2 separate regions of the Homo sapiens genome follow, and region 2 is linked to region 1. The links come from fine-mapping of genetic effects on gene expression. Tissue or cell type: whole blood. Region 1 holds a variant in brackets; the other region holds the start of a gene. All regions are shown on one strand. Distances are between the middles of the regions.

Evidence for each region.
Region 2: LRRC8B starts here. The variant in region 1 is fine-mapped to the expression of LRRC8B in whole blood (TOPMed, PIP above 0.99). The same link has a PIP of 0.9 or more in blood mononuclear cells and monocytes.

What each region holds. Positions count from the first base shown.
Region 1 is chr1:89,553,850-89,559,231 of GRCh38, forward strand. The region is part of intron 1 of LRRC8B (leucine rich repeat containing 8 VRAC subunit B); the gene reads left to right. Among named protein-coding and RNA genes, the nearest start is that of LRRC8B, 32 kb to the left of the region's middle. The variant G/A (reference allele first, on the strand shown) is at 3,391.
Region 2 is chr1:89,521,568-89,526,949 of GRCh38, forward strand. LRRC8B (leucine rich repeat containing 8 VRAC subunit B) reads left to right here and starts at 3,262. Exons shown (of 6, transcript NM_001369817.2): 1 at 3,262-3,455. RefSeq lists a silencer at 3,126-3,585 and enhancers at 4,287-4,788, 4,789-5,290.

The DNA.
Region 1 (5,382 bases):
CAATGAATTCTTTCTGATGCTTTCAAATTAATTTTCTTGATATATAATAGTATGTCCCTAAATGTATTTTTCTGTCATTCCCTTGCTCAGATACCACCAGTGACTTCCTACTGCTTATATCAAGCCTAAATTCCTCTCTCCTTGTAAAAAGATTTGAATATTCTAAAAGTGACATATTTACCCCCTAAAGCAATAATTTCTCAGGTGCCTGTTATGTTCTGGGCCTGAGTTAAATCTTGAAAATTTTTTAGTGTGGAATTTGAGACTTAATTAGCATTTGATCCTAATCACCTTTCTACTCTTAGCCCCATCATTTCTGTCTCATAAATTCCACTCCATCTATGCATCTGCTCACTAATTCATTAAATTGACCTTGGCTTTCTTTTGCCTTCTTTATTTGTTGTTCCATTCCTCCACATAAAATATTATGTGCCCTGTTATTAACCAACCCCTTTTACCCCTTATTCCTTCACCCCCTAACTATATAAATCTTACGCATCTTTCTTGGTCCAACTCATAAACCCTGTACAGTGACTATTGTTCTTCTAGCATGTATTACTTTAAGATGTAACTGTATAATTCATTTGTTTGATCTTTCTTGTACTTATGCCTTCTTTCACCAATGCATAAGCTCCTTTTGAGATTTAGGTCTGAGTGTGACACCTTTCGATTGCCTTCATTACCTGGGCCAGTTCTTTGCACCCAGCAGAAACTTCATCATGATTGTCGAGTACACCTAGTGTCAGAGCATGTGCAAGATGTAATATTTCCACTTGCTGTTGGTGACACAAGTTGGTGTTACATAAGGCCTTCTTCATTTCTACCTTTCTTCAACTGAGAGTCACAAAGTTGTTGCCTTCCTTAAATGGATAAGACTCTCCACACAATAAAAACAGATGGTATTGTCAAATATAAATAGGTAAATATTATTTTTTGTGCATGGATGAGAGAGAAAAGACAGGAAAAAAACTACACTTGTAGTTTTCTTGGCACAGTCTTTTTGCCCTTCAAATTTGGTTGCTAAGAAATAACCATAGATTCATCTGCTGTGTATAAAGGAGAAACTTAGAGACTCTGTGTGTTGTGCAGCTGATTTTGTCACTCAGCTATGACAGAGCCCCACCCTGATTTAGAAGTCATGTGTCAAACTTCCAGATGGGGAGTATATCTTTTGTCTCCTGGAAAACCATTGAAACTCTGTTTCCAGAGGGCCCATGTTTCTCCTCTTTGCTAAGACCAAGTGAAGCTGCAGAATCCTGCTGAGTTATGAAGCCCGAAGCCAGCCTAATGTGGAGAAATGACCTGTCACCTTTTTTGGAATGTAGGCATTCTATGTGATTCATATTAGTTATTTGTGCGTTATTTTAGAAGAACCTTACTCTATCACTTCAGAGTGCCCAGAGCTGCCCTAACTTATTCTGAATGCTATGGCTGAGCTAAATTCGTCTTCTCTGCTGATGGGGCTCAAATGGAGTCTTTAGTCTCTGCTAAAGGATTCAGGAAGCCTTTCATGTCATGTAGAATTTGGGATGTAAATTGAAGGTAAGAAGGTATGAAGATTGTAAGATATTTTTGCAGTTTTTGCTTCCAAACAAGGAGGTCTAATTAAAACTCTTGTATCTGTTCAATTAATATTTAGTAGCAGCTTCTACAAGCTAAGCCCTGGGGTGCATTGATAAGCATGATACATGTAGACCAGACCTCAGAGAGAAATAAACCTTTAATCAAACAATTACTTATAGGTTTGTGATAAATGTTATGAATGGAAGGGATAGAGAACTACAGGAGCATGTTGTGAAGTGACCTGTCATCATGTCAAGGAGGTGTCCCTTAGGAAATAACTTTCTTAGTCATTGACTCAGGGCATCAGTGACTTAAACGACTGCCTTGTTTTGGCCTTGAAAGCAAGCTTGACCTTTTAAGTGAACTATCTGGCACTGTTTGAAATTGCATCAGCCAGTTGGAATAAGAATTCGCTCTCCTGTGAGACTTTTCTTATACAGCATCATGTTATGTGTGTAATAAAGTCATATTTGGCCTTTGCCCCCATGTCACATCACAGAGCCCCATTCCTGATAAGAGTGTCCTTTGTTATTCATAGCGAGCCCCTGTTAACCATACCTAAGTTTGTTCTAATGTGGTAACTCACTGTAGGCACCTGGGTAGCTTCAGGATGGGGCCTGGTCACCAGAGGATCTAACCATGTGATTCCAGCATTGGAACTTTTACGCCCACCATCAACTTCTGGAAAGGGGAGAGGGACTGGAGATTTTCAGTCACTAACGGCCAATGTTATTTAATCAATGATGCCTACATAATGAAATTTTCATAAAAACCCCTAAACAATGGAGTTCAGGTAGCTTCCAGGTTGGTGAACACATCGAAGTGCTGGGAGGGTGGTGAGGTTGGAAAGAGCAGAGAAGCTCCATCCTCCCACTGCCCTCAAATACCTTGCCTTTTACATCTCTTCCATTTGGCTGTTCCTGAGTTGTATCCTTTATAATAAATCAATAAAGGTAAGTAAAGTGTTTTCCTGAGTTCTATGAGTTACTCTAGTAAATTATCAAATTTGAAGAGAGCGTTATGGGAACCCCCAAATTTATAGTCAAGTCAAACAGAAGTACAGGCAGCCTGGATTCCTGGGACTTGTGATTGAGTTTGAAGCAGAGGCAGTCTTGTAGAATGGAGCCCTTAAACCTGTGGAGTCTGATGCTAACTCTGAGTAGTTAATGTCAGAATAGGATTGAATTTTAGGACACCCAGTTGGTGTTACAGGGAGTGATATCAGAAAAAAAGACATCTCACTCTGCATTTACCCTAAATGTAAACCAGACATTCTCCCTCTCCAGCTGAGGAGCAAATGGCAACCAGTGATTTTGACTACCAGCAGCCATTAACCAAGTTACAAATATGAAGCATTAATTTAACACCAAGGTAAAAATGGACATTTTACCTGAATCATAAGTGACATAAGAGCTTGCTCTTTCAAAACAGACTGGTTTCTTTCTGAATGCTCTTGCCCAATGCTTCATTCCCCACACCTTCCTCCATGGAAAATAGGAGCTGGAACAGATAAGCAGTGTTGGCTGACTGGAATCTTTTAAAAAGCCTTCTCTGGGTTGGGCAGTTAGGCGTGTGCACTCCATTGGCACAGTGAGCCAGAGATTGTGCGCATTCTGTTTTTGTCTTTTTCCAAATCCCCAGTTGACAGACATTAAGGGATCCATTATCATTCCATTATTGCAAGGCAGATTTGGAGAAGAATTTTCTACTGAGATGGTTGTTTTGTCACAGTGAAACAAATGAGTGACATTCTATGTTTGGGCCACATAGTTCTTCTGAACCCCTGGGCCTCAATGCCTTTTTTGAAGCGTTCTTTTTGACTTCACA[G/A]TAGGACCCAAATATGATGAAATGTCAATGTCTTTGCAACACTTGCTATTTTGTTTCCCTGGAACCACAGTGGCATAAATAAAGCTCACTTCCTGGGTTGTTTTTTTCAAAGATACCATCCCAAGGCCAAAAGCATCCTCTTTTTAAATCACTTTGCTAGTAAAAGAATTAGGTTTCTTTATAAGAGTTCTCTTTTGCATCTGTTTGCTACTGCAATGATTTCAGAGTGCTTCCATGATATTTATTTTACCACTAATATCAATTCTTGAGCCAGTGTGATTATCTGTATTTTAAAGCTGAGGAGATGGAGGCCTGTATTTAGTGAGTGATTTAAGCCCATGCAGATGATGGTGGAGGCAGGCCTGGGACTCAGTCCAGTGTTCATTTTCCACACTGCTGCCATGGAAAACCAGCCCCTGCTTCTCACTCTCACTAGTGCGAGGAGCGGAGAAACAAAATGAGACTGTACTCAGTCAGCAGCAGATACATAAAAGTTTCCTAATTTTTATTTATATGTTTTTCCTAATTTTTATTTATGTGTTTTTATGTTGTGTGTTCCCCTGCTACGGCTTGGGGAACATTGAAATTAGGAAATTTATACTTACCTAAAACAGCTCTAGAACATTTACACAGTAACAGATCAGCAAGTAGAGCAATTACTCTAACATGTGCAGGGTTGACTCTCACAGCAGTGACTGCTGCTGACCAGTAAGTCAAGAAAACTTCTGTAAAAATGCCTAGTATCTGTAAGCATAGACACCAGTGAAGTATAGATAGAAATAAAGCCAGAGACTTAAAAAAAAATCCCTTGCCATCACAGCAGGGTTCCAAACTGATTGGAATCCATGAGACAGGCAGCATGATAAAGCAAGAGGTGGCCATAGCTAACTGTGAGGCTGAGTGAGTGCCCACAGCGAGTCACAGGGTGAAGCATCCTGTTGTCATGTTTGCACTGTTGTCAAGTGATCAGTGATCACTGTGATCACAGAATTCATAATCCAGTCTGCCCTGCATTTTGGGGTCAAACTTAGCACTCCTGGGAAGGAAACAGCAAGAGCCAATAAAACAGAAAGCAAGAGAAGCTGGAGATCACCACTCTTTCCCCTCACTTCCCATTGGCAAGCCTCCCCAACCCTCCCTGAGACATCACTTTGTCTTTATAATAACAAAGCAACAAGTCAAGAGGTGACATGTTTTAGAAAGAGCTCTCTGACTGCAGTATGGAAATGGGACTAAGGAGGGCAAGAAAGGAGGCAATTTCAGAGTCGTCCAGCCCAAAGATGACATGGGCCCCATCCAAGACAGTGGTAGCAAGATTGTAGAAGGGGCTAGTTTAAGAGACCATTGGATTTGAGGGAATAGAGGAAGAGAAAGTTTCTGGGTTAGGTGCCTGCCTTAGTCTGTTTGTGCTGCTGTAACAAAACACCTAAAACTGGGTAATTTATAAGTAACGTAAATGTATTCCTCACAGCTCTGGAGACTGGAAGGTCCAAGATCAAGATACTACAGATTTGATTTCTGGACGTTGAACATGGTGTAGGAGTAGAAAAGCAACAGGGACGGAAGGAGAGAACTTACCCCTTCAAGCCCTTTTATAAGGCACTAAATCCCATCATTGAGGGCAGAGTCCTCATAGCCTAATCACCTCCTAAATGCTCCATTTCTTAATATTGTTGCACTGAGGATTAAGCTTCAACATGAATTCTGAAGAGGACACAAACATCCAAACCATAGCAGTCAATGCCTTAGCCCTTGATGTTGCTATCAACCTGAGATTCGGGGATCAAGGAAGGACAGGTATGATATCTAGGTGTGGGAGGAAACGGTAGATGCAGTTTGGGACATGCTGTTTGAGTTGCTTCCACACATCTCGGTATATAGCCAGGAAGATGTTGGGGAGATGATTCTGCAGCTTGGGGTTAGGGAGCTGGGCTCACCATATACACAGAGGTGGCGGATGAAACCTTAAGCATAATGCTCAGGATGTCACCC
Region 2 (5,382 bases), 32 kb before region 1:
GGATCTAATTAAACTAAAGAGCTTCTGCACAGCAAAAGAAACTACCATCAGAGTGAACAGGCAACCTACAGATTGGCAGAAAATTTTTGCAATCTACTCATCTGACAAAGGGCTAATATCCAGAATCTACAATGAACTCAAATTTACAAGAAAAAAACAAACAACCCCATCAAAAAGTGGGTAAAGGACATGAACAGACACTTCTCAAAAGAAGACATTTATGCAGCCAAAAGACACATGAAAAAATGCTCATCATCACTGGCCATGAGAGAAATGCAAATCAAAACCACAATGAGATACCATCTCACACCAGTTAGAATGGCGATCATTAAAAAGTCAGGAAACAACAAGTGCTGGAGAGGATGTGGAGAAACAGGAACACTTATACACTGTTGGTGGGACTGTAAACTAGTTCAACCATTGTGGAAGTCAGTGTGGCGATTCCTCAGGGATCTAGAACTAGAAATACCATTTGACCCAGCCATCCCATTACTGGGTATATACCCAAAGGATTATAAATCATGCCGCTATAAAGACACATGCACACGTATGTTTATTGCAGCACTATTCACAATAGCAAAGACTTGGAACCAACCCAAATGTCCAACAATGTGGCACATATACACGATGGAATACTATGCAGCCATAAAAAGGATGAGTTCATGTCCTTTGTAGGGACATGGATGAAGCTGGAAACCATCACTCTCAGCAAACTATAGCAAGGACAAAAAACCAAACACCGCATGTTCTCACTCATAGGTGGGACTTGAACAATGAGAACACACAGACACAGGAAAGGGAACATCGCACACCACGGCCTGTTGTGGGGTGGGGGGAGGGGGAAGAGATAGCATTTGGAGATATATCTAATGTTAAATGACGAGTTACTGGGTGCAGCACACCAACATGGCACATGTATACATAAATAACTAACCTGCACGTTGTGCACATGTACCCTAAAACTTAAAGTATAATAAAATAAAAAATAAAAAAATTTTAAAAACCTGCCTTCTGTTGTTACCAGGTAGCTGCAACAATAGAAGGCCACATATCTCCCCAGATAGCCTCCCTCACAAATTGCTTACAGTGAAATGCCTTGTGGGTCCCTAAATCTTTCAGAATGCATATCCCTCCTATAAATGAGCCCTAAAACACAGTTCTGTTGAATCTCACTCTGACAATAACAGCTCATCTTCATATGTATGGTATAAGGACAAGACTTGGAAATCATCCCTCTGCCCACCCCAAGACAAATTCATAATTGACTTTCCCCCTATTTTCACATTTATCTTATGTAAAATGTAGATTTACTGAGCATGAGAGGAACACATAATCAGTATTCCTCTACCCACTCTTCACACGCAAAATGTGAATTCACTGGGCACTAATCAAAGCCTCACAAGAATGTAACTTCTTCCCTCATTGCCTACCTTCCCATTTCCCTTTTTTTTCTTTCTTTTCTCCTTCCCCTCCTGCTGGCTCTTTCCCCTTTAAATACTGAAGTCCTCAAAAACTCTCTTTGCAAAAGGCACAGATCACAGATGTTCCTGTATTTGTGCTTTCTCCTGGGGAATGTCCTTAACCTTGGCAAAATAAACCTCTAAAACGATTGAGACCTGCCTGTCATTTTTTTGGTGCTTAAAATCCATGATGGAATTTTTAATCACTATTTTAGACTTGGGTAAATCTGGCTGTGAAAGTAGTGACAGAGTCTTTTAGAATTTTCTTCTACCAAAAATAATTAATCAGAAAGTCCCTGAGAGAATTTCAGATACTCCTGTAAGGATCAAACCTAAATTTAAATTAGACTTGTAGATCTGTGCATACCCAGTGTCTCACACATATAAACTCAATAAAAATTTATCGAATGACCAAGTGAAGAAATGTTCTTTCAGCTTTTCCTTCAAGACTCAGAAAAAAGATATCTGCAGTTCCAGAATGGACTGAGTGAACAAGAAAAGAACAGATCAGTGACACAAAGACAGCCTTCTTTTTCCCTTTCAGGGTGACTCAAATTGTAGTCCTCATCTGAACAGTCTGAGACACAACTCTTGTCTCATATTAACTCGATAGGGCATTTGCTATACTCCCATTTACACAAACTGCTCAGATGCCCCAAATGCTGAGTCTGTTCGTCTTCATTTTATTCCTTTGGGAGATGCCGGTACAAACTTGTTTTTTCTTTCTTTTTTTAAATGGAGATGTGACCACCATAGCAACTAAAAGACATAAATCTTGCCTAATTGAATCAGTGTGCTCAAGATAATAGCCAGGGCAGAGACTGAGTTAAAACTGGGGTAAGGGTGAGAGTGGGGAAATGGATGAGGATGATAAAAATATTTATGTCCCTAGAATTTGTGGGTTTGGATTAATTCTGTTTCGTAAGGAATATTGTTGGCCTTCAAATGCAGTGCCACTTGGGAGAGAAGCAAGCGGGCAGTAGTTGAGGTGTCTCTGCAGTTGAATCGCAGTGAAAGGCAGGTTATGAGTATAGGGACCGCCCCTCGGCCATGTGGTCCCCTCCCTATCCTGAGGATAACGACATTTGAGAGAAGCCAATGGTATTGGAAGGCCAGAATCGAACTTAAGCCGCTTAGTTGGTACAACTGTAAACCCTCCCTCACAGAGGCTGGGCCCTGCAATCTTTCTAAGCAGGGTAAAGAAAAGTAAGGGGACTTCCTTTTCGAAGAGGAGGTTCCCGCGTGCTGCACCCGACCTTTCCCTCAGGGCCCAACACGCGTTATATAAATGCCAAGTTACTCAGGGACGCACACGTGAGAAGGCTGGGGCCCGACACACGCGGTGTAGTGCCGAAGTCACCGGTGTGGCGCGCCTGGGGGACACGCCGAAGCCCATTTCCCTCCCGCTTCTGGAAAGCAGTCCCCGCTCTTTCCAGCTGCTCCGCGGGGCGTATGGCTGTGCGCTACCTCCTGCGGACCCCAGGCTGGGCGAGGGGGCAGCGATGGCCACATGGCGCGCTCGGGGAGATGGCAGCTGCGCTTTGTTTCCAGCAGTGATAGGTGAGTCACTGGCTCCCGCAGCCCCAGAGCTGGGCAAACACTCAGGCCCAGGCAGCTGAAAAATTCACAGCAGGAGCAGCTACCGAAGCGACTGCAGCCTCTTCCTCCTCTTCCTCCTCCTCCTCCTCCTCCGCCACTGCTACCGCCACCACCGTGGTAGCCGCCTCCGCGCCCTGCCTCCGCCCCGTCCCCTCCTCCTCCACCCGCGAACTTAGTCAGCGGTTCGCGCCGCCGAGCGCCCATTGGCCAGCGGAACGCGTCGCGTCACAATGGAGCCGGTCGGAGGCGGCGAGCCGGACAGCGCCGGGGCTTCCCGCTGAGCCCGCAGCCTCCGGCAGCCGGGAAAGTGCGGGCGCGGGGCCGCAGCCTGCCCGCCCGGAGCGGCCCAGGAGCACGCCGCGGGGAGCGCGGGCGTCCGGGGCTGGAGTCGCGCAGGTAGGTCGGAGCGTGACACCCCGGTTCCAGGAGGGCGAGCCGCGCCGACCGAGGTGGTGGAGGAGGAGGACCGGATACGGGGACGCAGCAGGTGGGGCTGGCCGAACAGGTGCGGTTACCTGTTCACGCCTCACCTGCGAGCCAGGCTGCGGGCCGGTAGCGCGGCTGCAGAGACGAGTGGCCGCTTCGTTGTGCTCCCTGCCTTCGGGAGAGACGGAGTCCCACGCTGAGAGGACCTCTCCTGTGTGCTGGGGTCATTTGGAGCAAGAGGTGTGGGCGGTCGCGCCGAGACGGTCACCTCTCTTTCCCCCGGGAGTCTCGGCGTTGCACCTGAGCGTGAGTCCTCGGGGCGGGGCGGGAAAGGGGTTCCGCTTTCCCAGGCTGGCGTCTCGCTCCAGATGAGCGCAACTCCCCTGAGGGTGCCCCCATTTGGTCGCTCTGTTTTGCCCCCTGCGCTGGCGCTGTTGGGAACTATTTTATGCTCTTGGGAACTATTTTATGCTGTTGGATACGCGTTGGTTGCCTATAATTTGGTGGTGGTGTTGGGCGTTGATTTGTTTGAGAAAGAAAGGGCAAGCGTTACCAATTTAAGAAGAAGACTCAAGAGTTTCCCCTGAGCTTAGTTGAGCAGGTGCTGAGAGGTCAGAAGGGAGGAGGCTCAGTATTGGCTCATTAATCTGTGTGCTCAACTGACTTCCTAAAGTCCATAGATTGCCTTTAGTTAGATGACATTTGTGGAAAACTTTTTTTTTCTTTGTGGTCAAAAAGACACCCCTCTAAAAGAACAAAACCGACATGTGAACTTCCTTGAATAAATTCACTTCGCCTAAAGACTTCAAACAAACAAACAAAAAAACACTCCACTGGTAAAAGATAACAGTATGAACATTTTAAATTGTAGATATATAGCCAAATTAAAACAGGCAATTTGTTCAGCGTATATTAAGAAGACATTACGTAGCATGATTTTTATTAAAAGACAACCTATTTGCAAATGATATAGTAGTCTTTGCAGAACACCCCAGAAATCTTAAAACAGATTTATCTTTATCAGATGGTTCTGTCCCCTAAACCTAGGTGTAGGAGTGAGGATGGAAAAGAAGTCAAACTGCAGTGTAATTTTTTAAACAATTCCAGTACCCTCTATGTGTACAGGCTACACCTCCTGAGAACCCCAAATGCTCTTTGTTTTGTTTCTTTGTTTTGTTTTGAGACGGAGTCTCACTCTGTCGCCCAGGCTGGAGTGCAGTAGTGCGATCTCGGCTCACTGCAACCTCCACCTCCTGGGTTCAAGTGATTCTCCTGCCTCAGCCTCCCGAGTAGCGGGGACTACAGGGGCCCGCCACCACGCCCAGCTAATTTTTATATTTTTAGTGGTGGCGGGGTTTCACCATGTTGGCCAGGCTGGTCTGAAACTCCTGACCTCAAGTGACCCACCCACCTCGGCCTCCCAAAGTGCTGGGATTACAGGTGTGACCCCAAATGCTCTCTGAATTGTGGGTGCCGAGGTGACTTTCTTTTTCTCCTGGCTTTCCTTGTCAGCAGCTCTACTCAGAGAATATAAAGTGACAGCCAACCCCCAAGGTAATTGGGCCTGTGTAATTTTAGAATATAAGCCCTAACATGTCTGATATTTCTGTAAGCTAAAAAGAGGTCTCTTGAATGGGGGTGATGTTGTCATTGAGTGCACCCTTGGGTCATGGCACTTTCCTTATACTTAGTATCCCCAACAACATTTTTAAATCTGCATGTCGGAATTAAGTTTACCATTCTTTGAAATGTGTTCTCTTTTTCCTCAATTGGTAAGGTGTTCCAACATGTTCAGCCTATTATGAATCTTTTCACATTTTGAATGATTTCATTTGACTAGTTGAGATTTGCTTTTTTAAACCTCTTCTCTACCACTATCACCATTTCCCATTGCTAT